Linked DNA regions of Homo sapiens. The protein of the gene in region 1 interacts with the protein of each later gene in a biochemical or structural test. Each region holds a gene or a part of one and is shown on either strand. Other genes may lie near its edges.

Evidence for each region.
Region 2: the proteins of FABP3 (region 1) and ITGA2 interact in a biophysical measurement, tested with the Homo sapiens proteins (one study listed by IntAct).
Region 3: the proteins of FABP3 (region 1) and ITGA1 interact in a biophysical measurement, tested with the Homo sapiens proteins (one study listed by IntAct).

What each region holds. Positions count from the first base shown.
Region 1 is NC_000001.11:31,368,460-31,379,519, reverse strand, and holds the start of FABP3 (fatty acid-binding protein, heart), read left to right. Parts: upstream 1-6,443; 5' UTR 6,444-6,505; coding exon 6,506-6,578; intron 6,579-9,929; coding exon of another isoform or gene 9,930-9,962; coding exon 9,963-10,135; intron 10,136-11,060. UniProt on the Homo sapiens protein: FABPs are thought to play a role in the intracellular transport of long-chain fatty acids and their acyl-CoA esters.
Region 2 is NC_000005.10:52,982,410-52,993,666, forward strand, and holds the start of ITGA2 (integrin alpha-2 precursor), read left to right. Parts: upstream 1-6,942; 5' UTR 6,943-7,059; coding exon 7,060-7,123; intron 7,124-7,680; exon of another isoform or gene 7,681-7,877; intron 7,878-11,257. UniProt on the Homo sapiens protein: Integrin alpha-2/beta-1 is a receptor for laminin, collagen, collagen C-propeptides, fibronectin and E-cadherin. It recognizes the proline-hydroxylated sequence G-F-P-G-E-R in collagen.
Region 3 is NC_000005.10:52,859,770-52,870,300, forward strand, and holds part of ITGA1 (integrin alpha-1 precursor), read left to right. Parts: intron 1-1,677; coding exon 1,678-1,790; intron 1,791-4,993; coding exon 4,994-5,082; intron 5,083-5,201; coding exon 5,202-5,313; intron 5,314-5,920; coding exon 5,921-6,048; intron 6,049-10,531. UniProt on the Homo sapiens protein: Integrin alpha-1/beta-1 is a receptor for laminin and collagen. It recognizes the proline-hydroxylated sequence G-F-P-G-E-R in collagen. Involved in anchorage-dependent, negative regulation of EGF-stimulated cell growth.

The DNA.
Region 1 (11,060 bases):
CTGAAAAATGAGTAGGAGTTGGCCGGGTGTGGTGGTTCATGCCTGTAATCCTAGCACTTTGGGAGGCTGAGGCAGGTGGATCACTTGAGGTCAGGAGTTGGAGACCAGCCTGGTTAACATGGTGAAACCCCATCTCTACTAAAAATACAAAAATTAGCCAGGTGTGGTGGCAGATGCCTGTAATCCCAGCTACCCAGGGGACTGAGGCATGAACATCGCTTGAACCTGGGAGGCACAGGTTGCAATGAGCCGAGATTGCACCATTGCACTCCAGCCTAGGTGACAGAGCTGGACTGTCTAAAAAAATATATATATATAAAGATTTTTTAAAAAAGAAAAGACTGTAGGGGTGAGGAAGAGCACTGCTGGCAAACATAAAGAGAGAAACATGGTGTCCCCTCAAGGTACAAAAAGGTCAGAATGGCTGCAGTGTGTGTGGAAAGCTGGGAGAGGCAGGTAGGGGCTAGAGTGTGTGGGCTGTGATGCTTAGGCTGTGGCTATGGGGTCATGTCAAAGAAAGTGGGTCTTGTGCTAAGGACCACAGGCAGCCAAGGAAGGAGGCTGGAAGAGAAAAAACATAAACCAGGTACGCCTGTCCCAGCTACTGGAGAGGCTGAGGCAGGAGGATCGCTTGAGGCCAGGAGTTGGAGAAACATCCTTTGTGCTGCATTCCTCAATTTGTCCTCCCCTAGCTTCTCAGAGTCCTTGGGAGGCTGGCTAGGTGAGAATAGTGATAATGCTCTTTGCAGATTTAGAAACTGAGACCCAGTGAGATCATGACTTGCCCGAGGTCACACAGCTGTTGTATACATATGGCAAGACTGGAACCCAAGTCTCACTCCAGAGCCCCTAAAACTAGGGAGGTAGATAGATTCTCTCCTTCACTCACTCATTTGTTCATTCATTCAATATACTGTACCTGTCTACAACCATACCACCCTGAATGCACCCGATCTTGTCAATATACTATACCTTATTCTCCGCCAGAAACTCTTCTTAAAAAGGATTTCAGCAACAAATTAGACCAAGGAAATAGATGAGACCAGGCTATACAGTCTGGGCTTTCTTCTGTCAGCAACAGGGAGAGGATGGCTTCTGAGAAGGCAGATTGCCCCTCCCCACTGAGGTACCCCCTGTCCCCCAGGGCAGGGAGGGTCATTGTTCTCATTTCAGGGAGCATTCTGCCACAGGCAGCAGTTTCTTAGAAGCAAATTGGTGTTGAGTAAACCTCTACCTTCTGCCATCATTTGTTCTCTCCAGCCCACAGTATCTGGAACTCTTGGGGAACAAGGAAGCAGATTTCCTAGTGGCAGAAAGAACACTCCACCCACTGTAGCTGCAATCCCCCTGCACTGTGAGCTAAGTGAGAGCAGGGAGCTCTCCTGTTCACCCTGGATCCTCACTGAGCCTAGCACAGTGCCTGGCCATAGGAGGTGCTCAATTAAGATTGGTAGAATGAATGAATATTTAAAGAGAGAGAAAGGGAAATATGAGGAAACTTATGTCCAAGATCTGAAGGCCACTCTGTGACCTCAATGAAGAGGAGTTGGCCATATACTTGAATCCTTTCCTACTTATTCAGGGTCTCAAAGGGCCTTGGCTTACTCAAATATCCCGGGGAAAAGAACTGGAAGGAGGAAAGGAGAAAGGAGTTACTATTCCTTCAATATTAGTGCACGGTAGGCTTTCCATTTGTTATCTCTTTTAATTGTCCTAACAACCCTGAGAAGTTGATGGCCTTCCTCTATTTGGGAGAAAACAAGACTCAGAAGGGGGAAAGGGAGCTTGTTCTAGGTCTCTAGCTAGTAAATGCAGGCCTGGAGTTTAGAATCAGGGCTCTTTCCAAAGACACTGCATCTGAAGATGTCAGAGGCATTCTAACCAGAGTGACTCCATCTTGAATAGAGGCTGGATAAAATGAAGCTGAGACCTGGCTGGGATGCATTCCCACAAGGTGAAACATTCTTAGTCACAAAATGTTTACAGTTAAGAGTTAAGGGAACAGGTTAATAATTTACTAAACAGACATTTCTTTACTTCTCTAATAAACTTGCTTTTACTTTATTCTGCGGATTTGCCCCGAATTCTTTCTTGTGTGAGATGCAAGAACTCTCTCTTGGGGTCTGGATTGGGACCCCTTTCTGGTAACAAAGACCCCATGGACCAAGGGCATAAAAAGAAGGGATGTCTAAGACTTGCTGGTTCTATGGCAGGCAGAGGCAGAAAGAGCCCCACCATCATTCCCAGCAAATGGGAAAAGTTCCCAGTTGCAGATATTAGGGGTGGGATGGGGCGGGGGTAGTCAGCAACCATAGACTTAGACCCTGAAGAGGCAAAAAAGGAGGGCCATGTTCTTGGGTCAGCAGAGCTTCTACTCAGCTTCTTCAGCCTCTAGCTCTTTCCTGGTGCTAGTAGCACATTCTCTAGTGGAGGCATCCAGATGGCAGGGAGGGTCCAGGAAACAGCTGAACATGCTGAGCAGGCCTCCCTTGTCCCCGCTCCCCATGGCCCCATGGATCATCCGGTGCTGCAGCTCATCTCATTGGCTGGCTTCTGGTTACTCATCTCTCCTCTTCTCCATCTTCCCAGCCTGTGGTTGCCGTGGAAACATAGAACAGTGACCTCACCATAGGATGAGGGCTGGGGAGATGCTGTTCTTGGCAGGCGCTGGTCTTGCTGCCTGCCAGATGTTATATCCACATCTGGATCTGCCAAGGGCAAGACAGAGGAGTACAAAAAGGGACAGGGCTCACATTCTTCCCCAAATGTAGTCAGCATAACAGAGGAAGAGGATGCAGGTAGATCAGAGGGATGAGGAGAGAACTGTACATACTTAGAAGGGAGAAGGGTGTAAACCAGGAGGAAAGGAGATGGGGTGTGGCTTATGGGTTAACCTCGGTGACCCAGGTCTGAGCACCATGGCGAGGTGAGGGAAGGGCAGTGAGGGTAGTTGGTCTGAGGTTTGTCGAGTAGAGCTCCTCAAAGCCCCGTGCTGCTCAATTTGGACAGGCCCAAGAGAGGGAGCAAATGGATTTTCTGGCAGTGACCCCACCCCAACCCATTCTGAAAAACCTCTATAGCCCCTTTTTCAGTTGAAGCCCTTTCTAATCCTGTCCCAGAAATAATAAAACTGAGGATTAAAGAAGCAAAGCAATCTGCCTCAGGTAACTAACTCAGTAGGTAGTGGCAGAGCTCAGACTAGGTCTTAGGTGTCTGCACTATCCCTGGAGACAATAACAATAGCAGCAGGAGGAGCAGCAGCAGTGAACTTTCGTAAGTCAACCATGCTTAGCATTTAAATGTATTATCTCGGGCCAGGTGTCGTGGCTCACACCTGTAGTCTCAGCACTTTGGAAGCCGAGGCAAGCAGATTGCTTGAGGCCAGGAGTCCAACACCAGCCTGGGCAACACGGCAAAACCCTGTCTCTACCAAAAAAATGCACAAAAAATTAGCCAGGCGTGGTGCCATGCGCCTGTAGTCCTAACTACTCAGGAGGCTGAGGTGGGAGGATCCCTTGAGTCTGGGAGGTCAAGAATGCCATGAGCTGAGATCATGCCACTGCACTCCAGCCTGAGTGACAGAGTGAGACTCTCTCCAAATAAATAAATAGGCCAGGCGTGGTGGCTCATGCCTGTAATCCCAGCACTTTGGGAGGCCAAGGCAGGCGGATCACTTGAGGTCAGGAGTTCAAGGCCAGCCTGGCCAATATGGTGAAACCCCGTCTCTACTAAAAATATAAAAATTAGCCTGGCGCGGTGGCCCGCGCCTATAGTCCCAGCTACTTGGGAGGCTGAGGCAGGAGAATCACTTGAACCTGGGAGGCTGAGGCAGGAGAATCACTTGAACCTGGGAGGCAGAGGTTGCAGTGAGCTGAGATAACACCATTGCACTCCAGCCTGGGTGACAGAGTGCAAGACTCCATCTCCAAAAAAAAATCCCTTCATTTTAAAGATGAAACTGAAGCTGGCGTGGTGGCTCATGCCTGTAATCCCAGAACTTTAGGAGGTCCAGGTGGGCAGATCACCTGAGGTCAGGAGTTTAAGACCAGCCTGGCCAACATGGCGAAACCCCGTCTCTACTAAAAATACAAAAATTATCCAGATGTGGTGGCAGTTGCCTGTAATCCCAGCTACTTGGGAGGCTGAGGCAGGAGAATTGCTTGAACCCAGGAGGTGGAGGTTGCAGTGAGCCAAGATCACACCACTGCACTTCAGCCTGGGCAACGAGACTCCTTCTCAAAAAAAAAAAAAAAAAAATGGAGACTCAGAATGGCTTAAGTGAATTGCCCAAGGCCACACAGCTAGTACCCAACAAAATTCAGATCAGAACGCAGATCTGCCAGCAGCCATTAGCCCAGCCCCAGCTCTCCATCATTGCATTACAAGGGCCACATAAGGAGTCAGTTCTAGTTCCTGGCCACACAGTCCTTGAGAGGAGGCCCTATGTGTGAGGGCTGCGACCTTGAGTCAGAAATCATCTTTTCCCCCTCCTCCTCTCCTGGCACCTGTTCCAACAGTGAGATCACCAAGGCTCCATGCCCAGCCCTGAAGCCTGTCCCTATAGCTTTGGCAGAAATGAGCCTCTGAGTCTTCTGGCAACTGGACCGTCCAAAGGAATCAAGATCTTAGGGTGGGGAGAGGGCTCTTCCTCCCTGGCCTTGTTCTCAGAACAGTCCAGGGAAGGGAGGCAGGGTTTGCACATGGAGAAACAGAGTCCCAGGAAGGAGGGCCTGCCATACTCTACGCACGTGGCAGGCCTCTGGGCTCCTGTGTTGGCTCCTGCAGGCCCACCCTGGACAGGCTGCTGCTGGCTGAAATTCAGTTCGGCACTACTCCTTGGTGTGCAGGGCCTCCTGCCATCCCTCAGAAATTCATTTATACCTCACTTCCTTTGAGAAGTCTACATTGGGCCCTCAGGTCAGGACAGGACAGGACTCCCTTTAGAGGCACCACGCTAGTTTTATGTCTGGCTGCCCAGAGGTGAATGTGTGTCTTGTTCCCTGTTGTCTCTCTCCAAAGCAGGGCCTGGCACAAAGTAGGTGCTTTATTAACTGCTGAATTAATGAGTGAGCTCCTCAGAGCTTCAACTTGTTCACCTTTTTAAAAAGAGAAAATAATACAGTAACACCTACTTCATGGATTTTGCTTTAAAAGTCCAATGAGGCCAGGTGTGGTGGCGTGTGCCTATAGTCCCAGCTGCTGGGGAGGCTAAGGTAGGAGGATCCCCTGAGCCCCGGAGTTTGAGGCTGCAGTGAGCTATGATGGCGTCACAGTACTCCAGCCTGGGAGACACAGCGAGAGACTTTGTCTCTAAAAAATAATAATAAAATAAAAAGTTCAATGAAACAATACACCCAAAGCCCTCAGCATGCAATAAATAGCAAGACAAGGCAGGTCTTATTTTTACTGAAAGTGCTTAGTAAACTATACAGTGACAAACCACCGCACAACAGGCTCTCGAAAGGAGGCAGCAAATTACCCAAAAGTGCAGGCGGCTTGCTAGTGTGCACAGGCCAAAGAAAGGGCGGCAGGTGGGGAAGGCAGCCATGGGCCTTGAAGAGCTGACCGAATTGGCAGAATTTCTGCAGGAGGGGAGCTGGGAACGACCTGAGCTAAAGCTCGGAGCTGTGCGAAGAAACCGGAAAAGCCCAGAGCACTTGCAGGGGCGGGTGGGGAGCTAGATGGTGGGGTGGGGTGGGGACGGAGGAGGGCCAGCAGGAGACATTCCGCAGGGAGGGGCAAGCACGTGTGAGGCGGGCGGGGCGCGAAGGGTCAGGCTTTTGCTCAAAACAGGCAGAGGACAAGGTCAGCTCAGCCGCAGACCGAGCCGCTGGTGACTGTCTCCGCCACCAGGCAGTGAGAGTGAAGGGAGAGCGCGAGCTCTGAAGCCCGCTAGACTAAGCTTGCAATCTGAGCTCCATTCACCCCCTCCTATTTCTTGAGACCTTGTCAGTTCCCCTGTGAGCCTCGGACTCCTCACTTGTAAAACGAGGACAGATGCCCGTGCCAGAAGTCAACCAGAGCTTTCCCCGGCGTGGGCACCAGCCCAAGGGCGTTTTGCTTTTCTAGTCTCATCTCTGCTCTGACGCTAAGCTCAAAGAGGGACTGGGGGACGGGAAGATATCCACCATGGCATGCGCCCTAGCTCTCGGGCTGGTGTTGGCTGCTTCCTTCTCAGATTCCAGAGTGCCTAGAGGCCAGGAAAGGGAGAAGGTCCTACCAGCCTGGGGTAGGGACTCGGGGGCCAGGCACTGGCGCTGACGCAGGCTAGCAGGGCGCCACTGGCTGGTCCCCACCCACCTCGGTGGGTTGGGGGATGGGCGCACCAGCCCCTCCTGGGTGAGCCCTAGCCTGGGGCTTCCTATTTCGGGAGCCGGGGGCGTGGGCCACGTCTCCTCATGTGATGCGAGGGCTATTTAAAGCGGCAGCCCGGGCAGGGAGCCGCCGTCGGAGCCCTTGCACGCCTGCTCTCTTGTAGCTTCTCTCAGCCTAGCCCAGCATCACTATGGTGGACGCTTTCCTGGGCACCTGGAAGCTAGTGGACAGCAAGAATTTCGATGACTACATGAAGTCACTCGGTGAGCAAGCCGCGGGGCTCAGGATGTTGGCTTGGGGACTGGCTGGTGGCGTGCCTAGCCCCACGCAGCACTCCTGCCGCATCCCTCCTGGTTAAGACTGGGGAATAGGGGAGCGCGGAGATGGCAGCCTGGCCTAGAGCAGGTGGGGCCTGTTCAGAGGGGGCTTTGGTGGTCCAAATCTGGTTAGAGACCACGGTAGGGAGGTGGTGGAAGGAGGCAGCTGTGTGGGAGGCTCTTTCCAGGAAGAGGGATATGTGATTTGGAGGTAGGAGGAGGGTTTGGATAAAGAACACTGATCACAGGAAAGGGAGTGTAGCCAGGGGAGAAAAAGAACAGGGGCATGGGTAGTTTAGAAATTGGAGGAGACTGAACCCAGAAAGGGAATGGGGCAGCCAGGGAGTGTACAATGATGTAAACAAGTAGGAAATACCTAGGAGGAAAAAGATTAGTGGGGAAAAAACTGTGGATCAGTGAATCAGATATGAGAAGGACGTAAGACAGGAACCTGCAGTAAGCAGCAATCCCCATCTCTGCTTGGTTAGGGAAGAGAATTCTTGCTGGAGAATGCCCTTTCTCACCAGCCAGTCTGACCTTGTCCTGCAGTCTATGTATCCAGGCCTTCATCACTGTCTGTGAGCCTCGTGGTAGGGTGGGGCAAGAGGCCCATGATCAGCTGGGCCTTTCCTGCAACCCAAGGCTCACCTATCTGTGCGAGGGGTAGGCAGAGAAAGCCATTGGACTTCTGATGTGCAGTAGAGGGTCCCAAGGCAAGGTCAAGACCTGGGAGGGAGGATCACTGGTTTAGGAGGATGTGGAGAACTGCTGTGGTGTTGGGATGGAGAAGAATCAGGATTCAAAGAATCTCACAGGTGAGGAACTTGGAGATTCCCATACCATCTAGTTCAACAGGGAAACTGAAACCAGGAGAGTAGAAATGTATTATAACAATTCCACAGCAGAGCCAATATGAAAATCTAAGGTTTCTAGATCTGTAACCCAGAGCTCTTCCCACTACCCTACAGGCCCTGCGAGTGGGAAGAAAAGTAGAAACTGCTTAGCTAATGATTGACCTCAGCCCTTCTTCTACTGCTTTGGGCTTAGATGGAGAGGTCAAAGCTCTCAACGGCCTCTACCCTATCTTGGGCGCTATGCCCAGTAATTCTAGGCAGGCAGTCATTCTTAGAGGAGCAGCCCCCAGCCCCCACGAACACAGCCCAGCAGCTATTGGGAAGTTGGAATGCCCAGATTTAGTTCCTCCTTCCAAAGCTGGGCCAGAGCTGAGTCTTGAATTGAGCTGCAACAACTTTACCATTCTTGTTCCCTTATTCTGCCCCGAGTTGGGTCAGCGGGCTGGTCTCCCTGAAGTCCTGTTATCTTTCAGCAGCTTATGTTAAGGCAGCCAGCATTCTCATCGTAGGAATGGAAAGCCTGGGAAAATACCCTCCTCAGCTCTCAGTAAGTAGTGCTGGCTTCATTTCTAAGTAGAACCCAGATCTCCCTGAGTCTCCTAAATTCTGTCAGCTCAATATTCTTAGTTTCTCTTGGTTCAGACCCTCACTCATCCCGCAGTGGTTTCCTTTTCAAACACTCCATACCTCTGGGTAGATCCTAAGTGAACAGAGCTCCCAGTGCCGTGACAAGGTCCTGCTCTGTGCAAGGGAGTGTGATTGGCCTGACTCATCCTGATACCAAGGGGCAATGCCAAGTTCCTCACTGGCCAAGCAAGGGTGGGCTGACAGCATAACAGCAGAGGCAGCCCCTGCCCCTCCTGCTGTAGACCTAGGGCTCTCAAGGGGCAAAGAGGTCCCGTCTAGTACCAGTGACCACAGGCACAACTGCTGGCCTGGATTGAGTATGTGCTGGACAGAATCGCCCAGTGAAAATAGTCAACAGTTTTGGAGCCGAGGTTCAAATCTATGTCAGTAGTTTATTCTCTTTGAATTTCGACAAGACACTTCGCACTCTTCATTGTAAACTGGGGATAATCTACGCTTCGAGGCTGTTACAAGCATTAAGTAAAACAACCCATGTAGGGCATGTGCAGAGTACCTAGCTTCCAGCAAGCACTATGTAGCCAGGTACATTTGGAGACTTTACACACACCACCTCACTACACTGGGCTGCCTCCTGCCTCACCTTTGCCTTGGAAGACAGTTCAATGTTAAGCTGCTGGGGGGAGAGGGGGCAGTCATGATTAGTTCTTTGTTCTTTACTTGGTTGCAGGACACTTAGGACTTTGCCCAGTACCCAAGGAAGCCATGCTTGGGTCAGGAAGAGAGTCTCTGTAAAGCCTTAGACTGGGAGTCAGGAGACGGGTTTGAGTCTAACTCATTGTTGCTACCGCTTTAGGCTCCTCCTGAATCTGCACAATAGGACAAATACTTCCTTTGTACCTAACTCCTAGATCATAGATAACAGGCTTTGAAAATGATGGGTTGCCATGTATAAGGGACAAGAGCACTAACACTTCTTAGTTTCAGGGTAAAAACTTCCAAAGTTGGAAAACTCCTATGCCTAAGGCTTTGGAAGGGAAAGTCTATGTTTCTCTTCTTTCCTCAGCCTTATTCCTAAGGCTTTGAGAGCTTTTCAGGTGCCCTGGAAGGCAGCCTTATGCTCCAGCCTTGGGAGGTAGTATAGCTGAGCACTTAAGCAAGCTCTGGACTCAGACAATTCTGGGCTTCAATCTCAGATTTGTGACCCTGGGCTTTACCTCTGTTTTTGTATCTGTAACGTGGAAACAGTCTTCAGAAGAACAGGAAGAACTAAATGAGATAACATGTACAGTTCTTACTACACAAAAAGCTCATAGTACTTAATAGTAGCTTTTTTTTTTTTTTTGAGGTGGAATCTCACTCTGTTGGCTAGGCTGGAGTGCAGTGGCACAATCTCGACTCACTGCAACCTCCACCTCCTAGGTTCAAGCAATTCTCAGCCTCAGCCTCCTGAGTAGCTGGGATTACAGGCACATACCACCACATCTGGCTAATTTTTTGTATTTTTAGTAGAGACGGGTTTCACCATATTGGCCAGGCTGGTCTTAAACTCCTGGCCTCATGTGATCCGCCTGCCTTGGCCTCCCAAAGTGTGATTACAGGCGTGAGCCACCACACTTGGCCCAATAGTAGCTTATTCTAATCCCAGCTCTGCCACTGACTTGCTATGGCACTGCTGTTCCTTAAGTATCTCTCATCTAATGGGATCAGTTATCTGTGTTCACCAAACAGAACTAAGCGCAAGACTGAATTTTAAAATTCCCATGCAAAGGCTTTGAAAGATACAGTCCTCCACTTCCCCATACCCAGGCCTGAGAGTTATTCATTGAGTTTCTTGTACACTGCTTCTCTACCCCAGCTCATATACTCATAACCTTCCCCCTACCCTCAGGTGTGGGTTTTGCTACCAGGCAGGTGGCCAGCATGACCAAGCCTACCACAATCATCGAAAAGAATGGGGACATTCTCACCCTAAAAACACACAGCACCTTCAAGAACACAGAGATCAGCTTTAAGTTGGGGGTGGAGTTCGATGAGACAACAGCAGATGACAGGAAGGTCAAGGTAAGTCAGGGAAACAGGGGTGGGGAATGGAGAGTGCTGAGACTCTAAAAGAGAATAGGCTGGTAGTCTTGGCTCCCTGGTATTGCACCCTGAGGGGCAGACTATCATGGGGAATTTAAATGAAACAAGATTCATAAAGCCTGTGTAGTGCTGGAATGCCACTGATGCTAAATACATGTCAGTTCTGTCCTCTTGTTTTCTTCCCTCCCTTCTTGGGATTCATCTATTGTCTGCCTCGGAATGGGCAGCACAGAGCCAGGATGTTCTTCTGACCTCAGTATCTACTCCAGCTCCAGCTGGGTGACCCTGTGCAAGGTATGCAGTAGCTCTAGGTTTCTTTCCCCTTCCATAGATGGCAGAGTTATGTGGCCATGGCTGTGACCTGAAGTGCTTTAGGAATGATGCCCAGAAGTCAGGGCCCTCCACTGAGTGAGGTCATTGTGACCTCCAGCAGCAAAAAAGGCAGCCAGGAACTAGAAGCACCTACTCAGATGCCGCTTCAACTTCTAACTCCCAGACATGGCCAATGACCCTGACAAACTATTTCCAGTGTTGCCAGCTGACAGGCAGGAAGAGCTATGTTCCGTGATAGGGCATTCACCTTGTCATGAATGTGTTTGCAGTGTCTTCCCACCAAGCCTTAGCCCCTCCTCCCAGGGTTCTATCACCCTGCAGTGGCTGTCTTGGCAGCTTGCCTCAGCCTTCCAGGCCAGGCATGGGAGCGAGAGAACTTAAGGGCTTTGACCTCTATAGGGTGTCCCTATAGCAGTGTTCTATCATGACACTATCATTCAGCCCCATCAGCTGTTTCCTCTTCCTCATAGCTGTCCCCAGAAAGAACAGGATCACACAGGTGGCTGGCAGCAGAGCTGGGGATGGTGCCCAAAGATGGCAGTCTACCTTGGATAAAGGTGGCTGCCCCACC
Region 2 (11,257 bases), on another chromosome or scaffold:
CACATACAGAGTTTTTTGATGGTGCAAGCCATCTTCCATATAACTGTACTTTTATAAAGGTTCCTGATGCATCTAAAGAAAATGTGCCTAGGCTGGGCATGGTGGCTCACACCTATTCCCAGCACTTCGGGAAGCCGAGGCAGGCAGATCATCTGAAGTCAGGAGTTCGAGAACAGACTGGCCAACATGGCAAAACCCCATGTCTAATAAAAATACAAAAATTAGTCAGGTGTGGTGGTGTGTGCCTGTAGTCCCAGCTACTTGGCTACTTGGGAGGAGGCTGAGGCAGGAGAATCACTTGAACCCAGGAGGCGGAGGTTGCAGAGAGCTGAGATCATGCCACTGCACTCCAGTTTGGGCAACAGAGTAAGACTCCGTCTCAAAAAAAAAAAAAAGGTGCCTAAACGTTCTCTCATTCCACTGAGTAGCATAAACCAGACTGAACTTCCATTTGTTCTGCTCATATCCAAGCATATTATTTCAGCTAGAACAAGACTCTGAAGACAGTATCTGGTAATGAGATTTCAAGCCCATTGAGCATAGCCACTGAGGGTAGTCATGACTAATTCTCAACACTGTGCTTGGCTCAATACTTTGCACATTGTAGATGCTAAATAAATATGTGGTAAGTGAGTGAATGTTACAAAACCGAAGAGATTGCAAGATTCTCAACTTAATCCAAATGACGGATAATGTTAGATATAATAAGAATCTGTGAGAAAAAAGAGATAGAAAGTCTGGAGAAGAATTATGCAGAGAACTCAGATTCTCAACTTAATCCAAGTGAAGGATAATGTTAGAAATAATAAGAATCTGTGAGAAAAAGGGATAGAAATTCTGGAGAAGAATTATGCAGAGAGCTTAGAGACAAATATTAGGAGACCATGAAATAGGCCACCATTTGTGAGCCAGGAATACTAGCTGTTGCTTTCTCATACTGCACAGTAGGAAATGTGAAAGCAGAAAATATTTAGATTGTGATTAAAACTGAGATTCCTGGAAAAACTGAAGTTCAAAATCTTTCTGGGCTCTCCCAGCTTCACTGATTCCATTCTTTTGATGGGCAAGCAAAGTTCACTAGTCTGCCAGTCAAATAGATGCTAATGGTAAAATTGGCTCTGTTTGACTTTTTGATGTTACACATTTGAAATGTGTTTCCATCTAAAAGGACAGGCTCCAATCTAAATGGTACCAACAAAATTACTTCAAACAAAATAGGAGTTCATGTCACTCAAGATGCACTAAAAGTTAAATTGCAAAATGGCTGAAAAGGAGAGGTCTTGGCTTCAGAAAAGAATAATAACTACCTAAAGAACAAAAGTTCGTGTTCTTGGCAGGAAATTTTAAAAAAAGAAAAATCATCTGGTGTGGTCATACAGTGTATCAAACTGAAGAAGACCCTTTCTTTACTGAGTTAAAATTAAGTCTATAGAATCCTAACTGGAGACAAGCCATGGAAAACTAAAGGCACTTGCAAGTTGAAGTTACAGGGCAATGGAAATGATGAGTAATTAAGGAGGAAGTCAGCCTACAGAGAAGACAATAGAGCAGGTACACACAGAGAAGCAAAGCCAACAAGTCATGAATTCCCTAAAAGTTGCAGAGAGTTAATTAGGTTCTTATCTTCCCAGTCTCCACTTTAAGTACCCAAGGGCTATAATTCCTGTCTTTGGGTTCTCAGAAAGTTCTTCATATCCTTGCAATTAACTATTCTTTGACTTGGGCTAGTTTAAATATGATTTATTTTTCACCCCTGAAAAATAACTGCCCTCTAACTGGAACATGCAAGTTTTCCAGACAGAGTAGAGTAGCAGATAGCCATAAGCAGCCTTAATCCTTCATATGACACATTTCTTTAAAAAAGTCTAAAGTATGGATGAACAATGTTTCCCCTTCATTGAACTTTTCCATGTCCTAAGAGATAAAATTCTTTTTTTTTCGGGTTCATCTTAACAAATCAAGACATTAGTGACTAGTTGAAGAAGTATGTTTATTCATTTGGGGAACAAACATTCATTGAGCATCAACTCTGTGTCAGGCTCTATTTTAGGAACTGTGAGTGAAAGAAGTTAATGAGACATGTTAACTTGGAAGTCCTTAAGATTTCCCAGAAGAGAGACAGATATGTCTTAAACGTAGTCTAGTACAAGGACTAGAAACCTGCTCAAATTAGCTTCAGAGAAAAAGAGAAACTATTATTAGGTTGGTCCAAAAATAATTGTGGGTTTTGCCACTGAAAGTAATAGAATGATACACAGATATTTCATGGATGTAAACCCAGGAAGAACAGTCAGATCTCACACAATGGCAAACAAAATTAAAAGACCTAGAACAATCTCTCTCCGTGTCTCTCTCTTTCTCTGTCTGTCTGTCTCATGCATGCACACCTCAGTTTCTTGGTCTCTCATATCTGTCTCTGTTTTTGATAAATGGTGCAGATTGGCTTTTTCTACACTCATTGAAGAAAATGAATGGGCTGGGCATAATTCCAACACTTTGGGAAGGTGGGGCAGGAGGATTGCTTGAGGCCAAGAGTTCCAGACCAGCCTTGGCAACACAGTGAGACCCCATCTCTATAAAAAGAAAAATTAAAAAATTAGACAGGTGTGGTGGTGCATGCCTGCCCAGCTACTCGGGAGGCTGAGGTAGCAGGATCACTTGAGCCCAGGAGTTTGAGGCTGAAACGAACTATGAATACCACTGCACTCTAGCCTAGGCAGCACAAAGCCCCATCTCAAAAAAAAAAAAAAAAAAAAAAAGGCGGGGGGGAAAAAAGAAAGAAAATGGTTGTACAAAGTGAACACAAATTTCCATTTCATGTGATCAGCAAAGATTCTAGAATCTGTATACCATGAATGTAAATCCCTAGGAGATTGATCGAGCTTGGTCAGGTGTTTGGCTTAGCGACAAGGAGGCAGGATTATGTGACTCAGTGACTTCTAGAAGGGGATCATGGAAGACTCTGAGAAAGCCCTATTGGCAGAGCTGGCAAATAGCTTTGCATGTCTGCCACAAGCATGAAAACAAGTAAGGCCAGTCAACCGTAGTTGTGCTAGAATCGAAATATGAATATGATTCATCAGTGTATTGATGGGTCCAGGAAGCTAGGAAATCTAGAATTATTTTATTTGTTTTGTTTGTGTTTAAGTTAGGAGTGTCTCTTTTATTTTGGCCATTATGCACCCCAGCCAGTGCTTAGAGACTTGTGTGTGAGTCAAGCTCAATGGATTCTAAGCTTTACTCACTCATCCCATGGATTCACTGAGTAACATTTGAGAAGCCACTGGTTACTTCACTTCAAAATTACTAGGACTTACCTAGAAGTTCATATTTACCACCCTTTTCAGGTCTAGGGAGAAGAATGTGGAATTGTTAGGAAACTCATTTCAATGTATTATAATAACTATTAATATTTATTAGAAATTTATTTACTAGGTATAGGACTAGACTCTTATAACAAAAATGTATAAGATTTCAGAGACCCAGCATTTAAATGAGAAGGTAGAATATACACATATAACTCAATAATATATTACTCTGTAATACATACAAAAGAAAGTTTATTTGGGGGAAAAAACAAAAACAAAAAAAAAAAGCTAGAGGAAACCAGAGCCAAGAAAGAAGAATGATTAGTTCTCAGTGAAGAAAATGGGAAAGGCTGGGCTAATAATATAGAATTTGACTGGAGCCTTGAAGTAGAATTTGAAACAATGGAAGAAAAAAAGAAAGCTATTCTAAGTAGAAAAATAAGGAATTGACAATGAAGAATGGGAAAGGCAGGCCAGTGAACTCGTGAATTTGGCCTAAACATAGTGTGCAAGAGGGAAAGATAGCCACGGAGCCCACAGAGGTGAGTTGGAGCCAAATCGTGACCTTAAACCCTAGGGTACTTTGAATGTCCTGAAGACATCTAATGATTTTCAGCAGATCAGTCCTGCATTTTTGGATAACTGTGACAACAGGTATAAAAGATGAACTGGAACAGGAGAGAAGGAAGCACAGAGAGATTATATGGGAGTTTGTCACCATGGTGAAAGATCAAAAGGGTTTGAACCAAAGAGAGATTAGCAGTGGAACAGAAAATAGGAGATGGCACAGAAAACCCTAGTAGGGTGTAAAGACAGAATTGGAATGGGATGTTAGCAGGGGGCTGGTGGTGCACCTGGGGAAGAAAGCAGAGGTTTCTGGTTTGGGTGATTGTCTATATGAAAACGGGATAAACAAAGGAGGGCAGGGCATGACGATACAACAGATCAGAAGGAAACACTGGGGAAACTTATCTGAGCCGTGTTCCCCAACAAAACTCTGTCTTGAGCTAAGGAAAAGAAAAAGAGGGGAAGGCCTCACTTCACCCCTGAGTGCTTTTTGGAGTAGGGTCTCTGGGTCTCTCAAGATCCTTTCAAGTGGCCAGTGAAGTCAAAACTATTTTCATAACAATACTGAGACGTTACTGCGTTTTTCACTGTGTTGACATTTGCCCTCATGGTGCAAGAACAAGGATGGGGACTGGTGGTCATTGTATTCTTCATCACTGGGCACTCACAGGAAGAGAAAGGGAGAGGGACACGGAGAGGCCAGCAGATCAATGAATTTTAATGCCACGGAATAGGAAAAACCATTGATATGGTTTCAGATTCCACATTGCAACTTTAAGAAACTACCACTTGTTGAGTTTTGGTGTAGTATCAGGGGATTATCCAGAATTATCTCCTGTTTTTCTAAGTCCATATCTGTGTAACACCAGATTAATCAATATAATTTCACCAAAACTACATGCCGTAACAGATTGGATGCAGAAGCAGATCTGAGAATCCAAATGTCTGTTTTTAAGCCAGATATTTAAAATATTAGCAAAAATGTAAAGCAATGCCACTCTTCTCCCGGATTCTTTCATTTGGAGAAATATAGTTATTTTTCATAAAATGTACATTATTTATGTTCACACATAATAGGATTTTTGTTAAAGGACTTACTGAGTAAAGGGCTCTTGAGACCAAAGAGTTTGAGAAGCCCCAGCTTAACCTTCCATATTTCCTGCTCTGAATGTGGTGTCCCTCACAACTGCAACTAGGCAGGAGAGCACCCTGGAAGGGGTTCTCAAACTACTTTGTCTCAGGAACACTTTATCCTCTTAAAATTAATGTGAGGCAGGAGTTTGTTCTTTGTTTCTAAAAGTTTTGCCTGGCTCTGGAAAATCGTAGCTCCTGACTTATTCTGCACTTCATGACAGTGTAATGTTAATTTGTCCAGTTCTGAGAACAAAAACCAAGAAGGATGCATGTTATTTCCCCCCACCCCCAGAGATAAAACACAAATTCCTGTCTCACATTAAAGGAAGTGTCCTGCCTCCCAAACACAGGTCTGTTCCAAACACTTACTCACATTTCAGTGAGTCAGAAGGAAACAGACAGATATTCATCTCCCTGAAACCTGGCTGACTTCCTTCAAAAAGTCTGTAAGGAGCGTCAAAATCGTGTCACCGGTTAGTGAGCAGCCACCTAAGAGCTCTCAGGTGATAGCCGGAGTTTTAGTAAGCAGGTGAGTACCCCAGACAATTCAGAAAAAAATGCCTTCAGGTGTTTGTCAAGGTGAGTAAGTGCAGCCAGTAAGTGACTGATAAGAAAACAGGAAAGAGCCTGGGACTATATAATTTGGGTTCAAAGGGTATTAGTCATAAGCCATCAGCAGCAACATCTGATGCATACCAATTTAATACTTTAACAATGTGACACATCAGCCCTATCTATAGTAAAGAGAAGAGCTTGATTTTTATGAATTATTAAGTCCTTCCCACCTTGAGCCACTTTGCTTCCTAGAGGCAGTATCTCAGGCATCCCATTCAGCTCATAGTAGCATTCCATGAAGATCTGGAATGATGACAATAATGATGATTATTAGACTCATAACTCCTTAAGCTTGATTTATGAAAACAGTTCGTTCCTTCACAAAAGTAGTCACTGGAAGAATTCTGGTTTCAGCAATGTGCTGGAAATTTGTGGCCAAACTTTTGGATAAAACATAAGATTCAGACAAGAAAAATTAATATCCTATTTCTTAGGTTTTTAACTAAAAATCTCGGATATAGAATGTTCTCTTTCCAGATGTGAGACTGAAATAATGGAAGAAAATGGTCACAGTCTATGTCATGGTGTAATGTAGACAGGGAGAGTCACAAGTGCATGTATGGGCTCTCAGCCTTTTCTCTGGCCTTGAAGTTAATCTCCTAAACTCAGTCATTAAATCAGCTCTTAATTATCTCGGAGGAGAGGAAGTAATGATGATTTCTCTCTCTCTGTCTCTCTGTCACACACACACACACACACACAGCTCTTGCAGCAGGTATTGCTTAAATATCACCTTGGATAATCATAACTTGTGAGCAGATCTTCTTTCCTGATGAGTTAGTTTCTAACCTGGTCATTCTGCGCTTATTTTTGTCCCTTTCTCCACCCACTTAGGAAAAACAGAGAAAGGGACGCACCGCGCAGCCCCTAGGCACTGTGGTTTAGGGCTAGTGCCCTCGGCACCCGCTGCCAGGAGCCGGGCGCTGCCAAGGGCTGCGGAGGGGCCACGTTCTCCCGGGGACTGGGGCATCTCCTGCGTGCTGGCGACAGGCTGCGGGGGCGGAGTGGTGCCAGGGCGGGCGCTCGCCCGTCGGATATGCCCACCCGTCCCGTCCAGGGCAGGAAAGCCTGCCAGGGCGCCATCCCCATCCCCACCGCCTCCAGGCTGCCGGGGCTGGGCCGCTGTACGGGAGCCAAGGTGCGGTGCCCCGCGTGTGGACGAGCCGAGGTGCAGCCCGCGGGGCCGCAGGGCCGGGGTGGGGCGGGGCGCGGCCGGAGCAGATCCGGTGTTTGCGGAATCAGGAGGGGCGGGCTGGGGCGGGCCCTCGGCGCTGCAGGAGCTGCCCAGAAACTTTTCCCTGCTCTCACCGGGCGGGGGAGAGAAGCCCTCTGGACAGCTTCTAGAGTGTGCAGGTTCTCGTATCCCTCGGCCAAGGGTATCCTCTGCAAACCTCTGCAAACCCAGCGCAACTACGGTCCCCCGGTCAGACCCAGGATGGGGCCAGAACGGACAGGGGCCGCGCCGCTGCCGCTGCTGCTGGTGTTAGCGCTCAGTCAAGGTAAGCGGGGATTTCGCTCTGCATCGGCTGCAGGAGGGACCCGCGCGGCTTCCTGGGGCTCGCTGGAGGGATTGGGCGGAACTAGGGAGCGAGCTCCGTGTGTTCCCTCGGATTCCACGTGGACTCGGGCTCCCAGCCACCAGGACCTGCTTGGAAAGAGATACTTCTTCGTTCCCTTCCTGCTATCCCAGGCCTTGCGTCCCCATTAGGCGCGTCTCGCCCTGTCTGTTAAGCACCCTCCAAAGTCATCTCAGTGAGTGCTTTGTTTTAGGTACACACACGCACACACACACACACACACACAGACAGACACGCACGCACTCAAGCATGGACAGTGTGGGGATCCGCGGGTGTCCTGGAGACCGCGAGTCCTGCAGCCCAACTTCCCCTGGCTCAGACAGGTGCCGCGCCTGCCAGAGACCAGGGAAATCCGGAATCCATTGCTGATGGCGGCCTGCAGCTCCCCAGCGCGGTGCTTGCTGGCTTTGCAGAAGCCTGCGAGCCCCAAAATGCTTATTTTTCAACCCAAGGATGTGAATAATGCCTCTATTTCTTACTTGAGGACGAAGCGCTGTGTTTCTTCCCGGGGGGACTTGGAATAAACCAAGCGCCACTTAAATACTTGGCAGAGGGGAATTCTTCCTTCCCTTCTGCCTTCCTCTTATTGTTGTAACATTGTCTATTCGACGAATGTAAACTTAGGCTAGGAAAAGTTCTTTTCACTTCTGGATCCTAGATGCCGCAATGAGAGAATAAGCCGGAGCAGCCGCTCTAACTGTAGTGCTGTGGCAGTGGGGCCCGCCCACCTCCTGAGTTCTTTTACACTAAGAGGAGGAAATAAGGCTGGGGTGGAGAGCTTTTGTGGGACCATCGCCTGAGTACTTTTTCCCTGACCATTAGGCAGAGCTAGAGTGTGGTCAAATTTAAGAATTTTAGTTTATTTGGAGGGAGAAGGAGACACGTTTGTATAATGTAGTTTGAACAGCGATCAAAACAAAACAAAAAAGTTGTCTCTGATTTTAAAGTGTGTGTGTGGTTTTTTTTTTTTTTTTTTACAAAGAAGATAAATATTTCCTAAGCTGTCCTCCTTTGAGACTGACATTCAGCCACTTGCTATTCTTTATTGTGGAGGAATGAATCCTAGTCCACGTCAACCTGGTGGCATTTTCTCCAGGTCAGAGATAAGAGAGAAATAGCACCACTGTCCCCAGCCCGAGCAGAGAATGGGCATCTTAGGTTTTCTGTCTCACCTGTATTGGGTGCTTCAGATACTTTCTCCGGGAACCAGATGAGTTGTTTTGAGGGGCCACCAACCCTAATCTACGGATTTCAGGTAAAGTTGTACTTGACATTGAAAATGAGTCTCTGGAATACAACTAGAGCTAATAGAAATATAAACCCAAGCTTTTCATCTCTCTGTAATTACCCAGTATTAAAATAAGCTGTGGAAACATAACATCATTTTCTTATCTTTGAAATGTTGAGGCTTGTTATGTAAAGAGCAGTGAGAAATTCTTTAATGGAATGTAACGCTGCAAGGCATGAAGTCAGGAACAGAGACTTAACCTGGAGTTAATAAGGACACCTCAGGGCAAGCAAGCAGAGATGATCGAAAATAACATCTGCAAAAGTTTTGTGCATTTATTCCCTCCTCCTACTCCAGCCATTTGTATACTCAAGGAACAGGTTTTCTCTTAATTTAAGATCCTCATAAGAAAGCTCTCTCATTTGTGATATCACTTGAGGTTCCTGGAGAAGCAGCATCGTTTTTTGGTACCATGAGTATCCCAGGTTAACATGAATAAGTGAAATCTCTAGCTCAGTAGTATCTAAAATTTTGTATGGCATTACCCTATCTGTATAAAATTTCTCATTCACTATCATTACACACACACACACACATAACTGTTATAAAATTATAGTATGTACAATTGCATCATATCACATACAAAAATTCAAATTTAAAAGCTATGTATGTGACAGAGCTTCATTATGATGATCTTAAATTAAGAGAAAACCTGTTCCTTGAGTATACAATATGCCGTGTTATGTATATACAATTGTATATACATATATATACCTGTTAATATGTATAAAACACATGTGTGTTTAGACATCTTGTATCATCTCTAGCATACATGCAAACCACTTTAAAAACATATCACCTTCAAATCTTATTTTAACACTTACATTCAAATTTGCTTTCCAGAAACCTTTTCACAGGTGCTTAAGAAGAAAATGTACTCATAGTTTAGTCCTATATTTATCACCTTTCAGTGCTCATTTCTAAGTGCTTAATACCATGAAAATGGTAAATGGGCAGTCTGAGGATGAAAAAGAGAGAACATAAGAGGCCTAGATAATCTATAAACTAAATATAGGCCATTAGCAGAAGGCAAATGTAATTTTGAAATGAAGGCCATCACGTATTTTCTCCAGTATGTTCACAGGTCAAGGATAGTCCTTCCACCCAGGTTCTAGACCACATCTTTTCTTACTATCCCTGAAACCCTGCCCCAGCACTCATCCCTCTTCAGTGCACGTCTTCAAATTCTCTCCCTAATGTAACTTCCCCTCAGTCTGTAAATATTCTAATTTTTCTTATTGTAAAAAAAATATTTCTTTTGATATTTAATTTCCTCCTGAAACATCCTGTACTTCTGGCTTCTGTTCTCTTCCTGTTTTTCTCCTCCTTTCCTCGCTGCTCTCCCGTCATCTCCTTCACAGGCTCTTTCCTTGTTGGTGTTTGCAGAGTTTCATCCTGAATCCTCCTCTTCATTCTGCAGATTGTCTCTGGGCCCATTCCCTGCACAGGTCCCTATCTCCAGCCAGCCTCCCCTTCTGAGTTCCAGATCAGTATTTCCATCAGCCACCAAATTTCTCCAGCTAGACAGTCTGTAAGTAAGCCAGATTCAACATTTCCAAAACTGAATTTAATACGTGTCCTCCAGAATTTTCTCCTCTATTGGCTACCATTGTTTAATGGCAGTATTATTATCACACAAACATGAAAGCCAGGAATTTGTCCCCATGTTTTCAACCTCACAGCCACTCTCCAAATTCTCTTGGCTCTCCTCCCATCCATGCAACTCCTGCCACCCAGTCAGTCCCTCATCTTATGTCTGTATGTAACTTTTAAACTGGATTTTCTTTTCTTATCTCTCCAACCCATTCTCTTCATTTTCACTAATGATATCTTTCTAAGACACTTATATGTTTCCAATTACTGCTTTGTTTCAAATGTTAGTGGCTCCCCATCTCAGGTAGGGTAAAGTGCCAATTTCTTGGCATGTCATAAAAAGGTACATTCTACCTATCCAATCTTTTCTTTACTGTATGCTTTCCTGAACACAAATACACATTCACACACACACACCACACACATGCCCACACATGTACACACTCTAAAGCCATCTATATACACCATTCTTTGTTATGACTACACCTGATCATACCATATTTAGTGTGAAAATATTTTCCAAATACTCCCTTTGCCTTCATTGCATTGTTGCTTTCACCCCTTTTCACTCATCTCTTTGCAACTGACCATTATCCAATGCTAGAAGGGTCAATCCCAAGCAAAATTATAAAGTAGAGAACTTTTACTTTTGCAACAAAAAGGAAAGCTTGAGGTAACCTACCTTTGCTGGGTCCCACCCTAAACCACCTCTCTGGTCTCATCCTCAGCCCCTTAATGGGACTTAGGCCGCCCTCTGATAAAGTAACTTTGCTCCCCTATGGCTTAGCAGTTATACCTGCCCAACCTCAGCTAAGCTTTGCTCTCTTAATACTAGGTCCTGAGCCACTGTTTGACTTAAATTTATGGACTGGGGTTTAGGATTCAGTATTTACAATGGCTCATATATTTCTGATGTATGGTCTGGTTTGGAAGTGATTGCTTAAATATCATCACTGCCTCCCCACTTTCCTAAGATTAAAATTCCAGTGTTACCTACCCCTTACCACCTTGTGGGATGATCACCAAGACAGGTAGATTTCAACATCAAGAGTTAGTGGCTGTGAGCGGCTGTGTCAGTTAAATTCCTTCCGAAGTGGATGATGACTACTCCCTGTCTTCATGTGCTGACAGCCCTGGAGATATTAAAAGGTAGAAGCTTGTTAATGTAAAGAGAT
Region 3 (10,531 bases), on another chromosome or scaffold:
TATCTGAGTCATAGTCTCCTAAATACATTCCATTGTGCATATGTCCCTCTTAATTTAGATATTTCAGACATGGCCTGACCAGCACAGAACACAGGGGGACTATCACTGCTTGACCAGGGCATCTATTTCCAGCACTGCAGACTAAAGTCACATTAGCATTTTTGGCACTAAAATACGCTGTTGCTCATGTTTATGTGCTATCATCTAAATCCCCCATGCCTTTTTCACATGAACTCCCATTAAGTGAGGGCTCCCACATCCTGCACTGATATAAATAATAGTATGCAGCTGAGCGAAGTTATTTATGTAGGTTCTAAGTAAACTTTAGTTTATTTATGTTTATTGTTCCAGAATGTTGAGATTCATCTGAATTCCTAAGTATGTATATTGATATACTTGATAAGTATTTTTTTCTTGCTCTGTCTTATGGTGCTGATTGATAACTATATTTATACTTTTTATATCTTGACTAAAGTCATTAATAAAGTTGTCATCTGGCTGGGCGTGGTGGCTCATGCCTGTAATCCCAGCACTTTGGGAGGCCAAGGTGGGCGGATCACGTGGTCAAGAGACCGAGACTATCCTGGCCAACATGGTGAAACCCTGTCTTTACTAAAAATACAAAAATTAGTCGGGCGTGGTGGCGTGCACCTGTAGTCCCAGCTACTTGGGAGGCTGAGGCAGGAGAATCGCTTGGACCCAGGAGGCGGAGGTTGCAGTGGGCCAAGGTCATGCCACTGCACTCCAGTCTGGCAACAGAGCGAGACTCCGTCTCAAAAAATAAAAATAAAAAAATAAAATAAAAAAATAAAGTTGTAATCTAACACAATCCCAAGTACAAAATCTCATACTATGTAATTAAGTCCTTTGATTGCTAGCAGCCAGAGTTTTTGGATATGGCTACTCAGCCAGCAATAAATCAGCAACTGTGGATCCACCCAAGTATCTTACTATTTACTTTAGTTCATCCGATTCCTGAAGATATCATGGGAGACTTAAATGACTTGTTGGAACTAAAATCAGTTGTGATTATATGTTTTTTCCATTAATTACTGTTAGAATGGTTTTATAATTCTGTCTAAAAGGAAAGTAAGTGATTTTAACCTGGATCTCATAAACTATCCTTATTTTCTAAGCACTTATAAACTAGCACATGCTAATATTAAATCTTATGATGTTCCAATGTTTATATTTCCTGACTTCTCTATAAAATTAGCAGTTCATCATAGGAAAAAGTCACTTATACTTCCACATGTGTTTTATAAGTTAATACAGTAGCAGACTTAGCCAATAATTATTGATTATTTCAGTACCCCAATAAAAAATATGATAAAGTAATATAAACAAAATAATAAAGCAAAATCTCTGAAATATCTATCCTACATATACACACACATATACATGTATATACACACATATATATGTATATACACACATGTATATGCTATATATGTATATTGTATATGTATGTGTGTGTGTGTATATATACTTTTTAATCCACATCAATATGCAAGAGGTAGGCTCTCTGCTTAGTTTACATAACATTAAATTACTAATAGCATGATTATTATCTGATTATGAGTGTTATTGTCAATTATCTTAAAATCAGTCATAAAACAACTCATATAAACTGTTTCTCAATGTTCAAAAATGTTTACTGATTTATTTAACTTCCAGGGTGCTTATTGGTTCTCCGTTAGTTGGCCAACCCAAAAACAGAACTGGAGATGTCTATAAGTGTCCAGTTGGGAGAGGTGAATCATTACCTTGTGTAAAGTTGGATCTACCAGGTATGTAAAATTAAAAAAATCTGGTTTTAGGCCAGGTGCGGTGAGTCACGCCTGTAATCCCCACACTTTAAGAGGTCAAGACAGGCATATCGTTTGAGCCCAGGAGTTTGAGACCAGCCTGGGCAACCTGACGAAACCTCATCTCTACAAAATATACAAAAATAGCTGGATGGGGTGGTGCACTACTGTAGTCCCAGCTACTCAAGAGGATGAAGTGTGAGGATCGCTTGAGCTCAGGAGTTTGAGACTGCAGTGAATGGTAATTGCGCCACTGCACTCCAGCCTGGGTGACAGAGTGAGACCCTGTCTCAAAAAAAAAAAAAAAAAAAATCAGGTCTTAAATTATGCCCAGTATTCTCACTGAAAACAGATTTTGGGCTGGGCGCAGTGTCTCACACCTGTAATCCCAGCACTTTGGGAGGCCGAGGCAGGCGGATCACCTGAGGTCGGGAGTTCGAGACCAGCCTGACCAACATGGAGAAACCCTGCCTCTACTAAAAATACAAAATTAAGCTGGGCATAGTGGTACATGCCTGTAATCCCAGCTACTTAGGAGGCTGAGGCAGGAGACCTGCTTGAACCTGGGAGGCAGAGGTTGTGTTAAGGCAACATCACGCCATTGCACTCCAGCCTGAGGAACAAGAGCAAAACTCCATCTCAAAAAAAAAAAAAAAAAGAAAAGAAAAAAAACAGATTTTAATCAACTCAAGAAAATATTAGAAGTAATCTGTGTGTCAGAATGGTCGAGCGGTCTAAGGCGCTGAGTTCAAGAAGTAATCTATAATCATTTTTCATATAATCATTTATAATCTATAATCATTTTTCTATAATCATTTATCTTCCAGATTGACATAGAATGCCATTTTGATTCCCTCTGTCCTTAATTTGCTTTAGAAAGTCATCAAGGAGCATACATAAATTAGAATACCGTACTAATTTTATAACTTTTAACTCTCTGCATTTTTCAGAATTCTTTCTAATTCAGTGGTAATGTGAAAGAACTTCTCCAAATAAACCTGCCCACCACATTCCCTCCACAAAATTTAACTTAGTGCCTGGTTTTCAAGAGGAAATAGAATCAGAGGAATTGTAATAGATAAATTTAATTTTAAAAATAGAATCACACAAGATAAATTTATATTGAAATAGATGTATTTGACATAAATAGTAGGAATGTGACCGGAAAATTCCTACTAAAATTATCTAGAAATTAGAACCCTGTCAATGTTCTATACAATATTACATACTATGGAAATTATTTATAGCCCCACAAGTTTATTTCACATATTGTATTTTTCAGTTCTCCTTTTTTTGAATTTTCTATTTGTTTGTTTTTATGAACTTTTTTTCTTTACATGCATAAGCATACTTATAATAGCTGCTTTAATATCCTTGCCTGATAATTCCAACATCTGGAATATCTCAACATCACTTTCCATTTATTACCTTTCCTTGAGGTTGCATCACATTTTCCTGTCTTGTCTTGTAATTTTGGATCATAACCTGGATTATATTTTTGAATTACAGGTGTGGAGATTCTAGATTCTGTTATATGCCTGTGAATAGTCTTAACTTTTTTTATTAGCAGGAAATTTACTTGGCTCAACTCAATTTCCAAGCATTGACTTTCTTGCAATGACAAGTAGTTAAAATCTCTATTCAGGTTTTATTTCAGCTGGGCTATTTGAAATATACTCTGCGCATTTACTATTCAAGTCATCTAGTTATTTGGATAAAATATATATGCATATTATAGAACTGTTGTTTTGTGGCTCTTTTTCTAAGATATACTACTCTCCTCCTCATTTTGCAGCTGCTGTCATTGCCCTCAATCTCTGTTCTCTTTTTATTCAGTACAGTAAGACTAGGAGTTCTATTTGAGTTTTAGCCACTGACCAGGGCCTTCCCTAGGTTGGGGGTGGGTTAGGGGTGGGGGACAAAAACAAAACAAAACACAAAAGCACAAAACTCATTTAGTGCCAGTATCTTCTTCCAAGTATGGATTCCCCTCCATTTTCTGCCACCTTTCTAGTGCCTTCAGGTGATTGTTTCATGTATTTTTTTTAATTCTTCCTAGAATTTATAGTTGTGATTTGCAGAGGAGCTGTTTTGTTAGGAGTTACTCCTCCCTTACTGGAAATTGGAATAGTTTTAAAATTAGGCTAGAGATTTTAGCCACATCAAGTACAGTAGGGAAGTTTCCACTGTAGTCCCTAATTGTCCCAGGAATGCTTTTTCTGGGTCAAGCTTTGTATATAAAACTCTAATCCAGATTATACAAGATCAATGCATACAATCGCCCAGCTCTAGGTGCTTTCAAAGCAAACCAGACTAAACTCTTGGACAAAGGCCATTGCGCAGATCAGGAAGTCTAACTGACCATTCCAGAATCTCTGCTTCCATTCCCCACTTTAAATCCACATACAGTCTTAACATGAAAACAACCTCTGGAACAAACAGTGAGACAAATCTTTCTCAACCTGAATTTTGCCTCTTTCTAATATTCCACTCTACTAAGCAGATTTAGAAGTTCTTGTTTTTCCTGTCCAGTCTTTTTTTCTTTTTTAGTGTGAGAAAGTGAAACTTCTTGCCAATATTGTTAGGCTGGCATGCTTCATGCTTCAGGACCCAACATTCCCTTCAGAATGTCAAATGCAGTCTCTTTACTGTGTTTCCTTTATCAAAACTTTCTGGACACTGCTCTAATATTCCTCTAGTTTCCTTTGTCACCCAAAGGATGTCCTCATGATTTTGGAAGTCATGGTCAAAAAACTGGTGTTTGAGTTTTCTTTTCTGATCTTCTACCCATTTCCCCTTTTCTTGCCAAAAATCGTGTTTCATCACTGGTCATTTATAACAAAGTTATAAGATTACATTATATCTACAGTATTATGAGATTAAAAACTTTGCTTTAATTAGCAAGAACGTGCAAAAAGCAATCCCACATTCTCATTGCCCTGCTAGTTCTGCATTCTTTCACAGTTCAGCAAAACTATCTGAAATAGTTTCTGGGACATGAGCCAACTCTTCAGCCTTAGCTTGTTCATTATATTCCTTAAGAAGACTTGGAAGACTAATTAGTTGAACCAAAAGAAGAATGTGCTATGATATGAGCAAAACAAATAGAATGTCTTAATGAGAGATGCTTAAAATTTCACTTTGTGAAACTTTTCCTCCCTCATAAAATTTTGTTCTATTTTTAGTTAATACATCAATTCCCAATGTCACAGAAGTAAAGGAGAACATGACATTTGGATCAACTTTAGTCACCAACCCAAATGGAGGATTTCTGGTAAGAATGGAGAGAATGATATTTATTGACAACAGATATGCTATCATTTTAAGTCTTTGTAAGATCTGTTATATAATTTTCAGTCTAATGATTTCTAATTTTAAAACAATTTTTTAAAGGCTTGTGGGCCCTTATATGCCTATAGATGTGGACATTTGCATTACACAACTGGAATCTGTTCTGACGTCAGCCCCACATTTCAAGTCGTGAATTCCATTGCCCCTGTACAAGGTACAGATTTTATGCAATGTTCTTGCATGTTTGAAAAGCCTATGCAATGAATGAGACGTATGTATACAAAGGAACATACCAAAAAGCTTAAAGTATTTTCTTAGCTACCAGCATTACCAATTTAGGTAAATGTTTGCTTTGCCAGTATATAACAAAATCTGACTGCTATTTTTGGAATTGATATTAGTGTAAATAACTTTACAAAGTCATTTTTAAACATCATAGATAAAGCTGTCATGCTGCTTATATTTAAAGAATGAGTCTCTTTGAAGAAAGAAGTAACTTCATTTGAGATATGCTCAAAAACTGTTTTATAAAAACTTATATAAAATTCATATTGAGAAAATTTGCAAAGATAACTCTCATACAATACTAATTAAAATTCAGTAGGTATGAATTTTATCCCACACCAATTGTTATTGAAAGCAATGAATATTTTTATCATCTTTACTTTTTCGAAAACTATTTTTTATTGCTAAAACAATGTGTCTACTTTGGAGAACATCAGTTCATCTTTTAAAATGAACTTCTTTCAGCCATGAAAGCACTTCATATGCCTCTGAAAAAAATAGATTCCAAATTTGACAATTGACTCCTTTTATTGCAGAATGCAGCACTCAACTGGACATAGTCATAGTGCTGGATGGTTCCAACAGTATTTACCCATGGGACAGTGTTACAGCTTTTTTAAATGACCTTCTTGAAAGAATGGATATTGGTCCTAAACAGACACAGGTATGTGACTTTGTGTTTTGATTTCTGTTGTTCTAAAGATAAAAATGCACAAATTTTTAATAAAACCAAATATTCTGAAAGCAAATTAATCAATAAAACTAAAGTTGAGAATGAATTTTATATCCATTTCCTGTTCTTATTTCTGATAAAAAGGACATTACTTTAAGCTGTGTTATTTTCTATTTTTTTCTTTTTTCTTTTTTCTTTTTCTTTTTTAGACAGAGTCTCACTCTGTTGCCCAGGCTGGAGTGCAGTGGTGCAATCTCAGCTCACTGCAACCTTCACCTCCCAGGCTCAAGCAATTCATATTTCTCAGCCTCTCCAGAAGCTGGAATTACAGGCATGCGCCATCACACCTGGCTAATTTTTTAAATTTGTAATAGAGATGGGGTTTCATCATGTTGGCCAGGCTGGTCTCAAACTCCTAGCCTCTGGTTGATACACCTGTCTCTGCCTCTCAAAGCATTGGTATTACAGGCGTGAGCCACTGTGCCCAACCTAGGCTGTGTTATTTTCTAAACAGAAAATATTATGAAAGCTGCCATTTTTAATGCACTTGAAAAATAACTCCTATAGAGTTCTATAAACTCATAGTTTAATTTTTACTTAAAATGGATATAGCCACTTTTGGTAATGTCAGAGCCGGGTGTCAGAGTTTGTAAAAACTAATCTGACATCCCAAACAACCCATCACATTATAATCTCTCCTCTCATATTATACAAATAAGTTAGTAACTGACCAGAGGATACTACTTAAAGCCTGTTGTCCTTTCTGTTAATAATTTCTTTTCCCTAAGTTAAAAGAAAATGCCCCTGGCTATCTCTGCATAAAATCAAATAGTTGTTTGTTTATCCCCCCAATTAATATCTATTTCTAAACACATCTCCTTTATTGCCACTAAATGAAGTGGAACTTCTCACACAGCTTTTCCACTTTAGATACTGAGTTTAATTTAATTACATTTAATTAAATACATTTGACTGATTTAATGTTTATTAAACTCATATGGGCATATATATTAAAATACAGGGCAGACATAATGGATAACAGGCAAATAAAATGTCAAAATGAAGTCAATGCCTCAGGTCAGGAATTAGCCCTAGAATCAGAGCCTAAAAGATTGTTGTGTGGTTTGGAGGCTGTAGAGAGCATAGGAGACTTTAAGATTATAGTACTGCAATCAATACAGTGATCTTCCTTTTTTTTTTTTTTTTCTGAGGACTTTACTTTGGGAGAAGTTTCTGAGGCACTGAAAAAGCAGACTGACTGCGTTAATGTTTGCCACACCTACATTAAATTTGGAACATAATATGTGCACATATATATACATACATGTGTCTTCATGTGTCTGTGTATATTTATGTCTCTCTTAATATTTTGATATCTATGTATATATAATTTTCTAAAAGGATGGTGGTTGAAAATTTCAAAGTTGAACTCAAACTTCAAAGTGAAATGTATTGCTGCATTCCAAGGCTGAATAGGTCTCTGTAGAGAGTGAGTGGAAGGGTAAGGTTATAAATATCCTGCTGGACAATAGAGAACTTGTTGAAATCAGTGTAAAATCATTAAAAATGAAATGGGCTTTTACGTATCACAAAATGTAATTTTCCCTGGAAGTGACTTATTTGCAATTGACCTTCTCAAGTGAAATTACTAGTGGATGGTAGGGGACCTTTTTATCCCGTCTTGCTACAGGGTACAGGGCAGCCTGCATCTTAACAGACCAACTCCAGGATGTGACTTGCTCTTCCTTCTGGCACCTGTTCCTCATGGACCTCCTTTTTTCCCTTCTGAGACCACTCTTCCTTCCTCCTTTCCTCGCTTCCCCTATCCCTTCTCTCCTTGGCCAATAAGATAGCATAGAGTCATAAGATTAAAGCTGGAAAGAATCTTAAAGGTCATTTGGCCCCCAACCTCAATTTATGAAGGAGACACGAGAGGCTAACTGATTTGTTTAAGGTCTTTCTGCTTGCTGATGGCAGATTAGAACACACACAGCTCTCTAATTGTAGCCCAGTTTGCTGTTGTTTTTTTTCTTTCTGAGGGCTCTACTTCTAGAGAAGCTTCAGAGCCAGTACCATCTAATGCCCCTGAATAGTAGATTTCAATCCTTTTCTATTTCATGAGGATGACTGTCCTCATCCTTCCTCAGGCAGCCTCTTGGCTGAAACCGTGCTAGGCTTGGCAATGACTCACTGCCTGGACTAATACCTTAAATGAAATGGCTTGTGTTCCCGCTTTCTCCACTTTTGCCCATGATGTGCTTTCTTTCCTTCTTCTTGTTTTGTCCATCCCATTTGATCTTCTTACCTAACTTTTTCCTTCCAAAGCTAATAACATGCTTGAAATATTTTTTACAATTTATTATACAGCCATCTAAATATTTTATTTTACCTTTAAATTCACTTATGTATATTACTCTTAAAAATTAATTTATTTGTAGCTATTTGTGAAAATTAGTGCAGCTGTGACATGTCTGAAGTTGGTCCACAACTTTAGAAAGAAAATCCATACGGCTCTTTTAGAACAATAATTACAGCTTCTGTGAAGATCTATGCCAGTGACTCCATTTTGTAAAGAAATAAATAACAGTCAATTGCTTATATGCTCAAGCTATTCTTCTGCAATTTCGATGTTTTTCAGTTAGAACTATAATTAATTTACATTTCTGTGTTGAGAGTCCTAAAAGAGGAGCTATTCTGCCTGTCCACCAGAGGAATTCTAGCCTGCCAGAGTGGGCAACATGAAGTTATATGTATTTTCTGGAGGGAACAATGGCTCTATTCAGACAAATTCAGGAGGGCCCTTGGGGTCCAGATGCTACCAGTGAATGGGAGGAAAATGAACTTACCCTGCAGCAGAAGAGTTCAGTTACATTTACCAAGATCCAGGACCTCAATCCACAGAGAAGAATATTTCTGAATGAAGCACCCTGCACAGTGTCGTTTACATTATCTTCTGACTTCACCCAAGGGAACCTGATTTTTAAAGAGAGAAGCTGATTATATTTCTGAATTTTTATGTCACATCTTGCTTTCATCATTGATTGTGGAGCTTAACCATATACATTCATTCATTTATTCAGATGTATGTACTAAGGGCTTACTATGTTCCAAGCTCTATGCTATAGCTTGGGTAATAGTGGGGAAGATGACAGACAAGGGTGATGCCTTAATGGTGCTTCTGTCTAATGCCATGTTTCTCCAATTATGGCTCATGGAATTTCTGCTTCCAAATCACTGGGATGCTTGAACTATACCCCAGATTTTCAAAATCAGAATCTCTGAGGGTGGGGCTATAAGCCTGCATTATATATAAGCAACCCATATGATTCTTTTCTGTTTGTTTGTTTTTTTGACAAGGAGTTTCACTCTTGCTACCCAGGCTGGAGTGCAATGGTACGATCTTGGCTCACTGCAGCCTCCACCTTCTGGGTTCAAGCAATTCTCGTGCCTCAGCCTTCTGAGTAGCTGGGATTACAGGCATGTGCTACCATGCCCAACTAATTTTTGTATTTTTAGTAGAGATAGGGTTTCGCCATGTTGGCCAGGCTGGTCTTGAACTCCCGACCACAGATGATCCGCCTGCCTCGGCCTCCCAAGGTGCTGGGATTACAGGCTTGAGCCACTGTGCCTGGCCCCATATGATTCTTAAACAGATTAAAGTTTGAGAAACACTGGACTAAGGCATAATTATTATATTAGTGTGCGTGAGTGTGTGTCTGTCTATCTGTGTTTGCTGCATACTGTAGATAATAGGCACCTCAAGAGCAAAGTCTGCATCATCTTCTTATCTTCGTCAGTGGCCAGCCCAGTGGTTTACTGTGGCACAGTAAGTCCTCAATGAGCACTTGTTGAGTAAATGTTTGTATCATATTGAGTCCAGTTTTGTATTTTTCTCTGATTATTGGACATTTAATGAGTCTTTTTTCTATAACTGGTATTTTAAAAATTATTTTAAGTATATTACTTTATACTTTATTCTCTAGTATTCAGTCTTTTCTAATCTTTTTTTTTCTATTTTGGCTTATGTTTTATCAGTGACTAAATTCATAAATAATTCTCTAAAATGAAGAGATTGGAAAGGACATATTTACCAAGCCATTGCTTTTGCTAAATAACATTTAATAGGGTTTTAAGTATAATGCATGTGAACTCTTTTTAAAGTTTGATCATCTTTCAGTGGATTCAGAAAAGAAATCCTGTCATAGAAAATTTGGAAAGACATTTCCTTTTCAAAGAAAATATGTGCTGAAAAGCATGCTTATCTTTCATGTAGTCTTACAGTAATTCTTTCCAAAAACTGTTTACTTGACAATCAATTCTTTTTCTTGATTGGTTGCTAATGTAATTTAAATCCATTTGATTTGTTTGTTTGTTTGTTTTTAGTTTTATTTGTTTCTTTTAATGAAAGCATTCAATTCCACCCTATGATTGGCAGAATTAACTTCTGGAATTTATTCTCCCCTTTATGTATTCT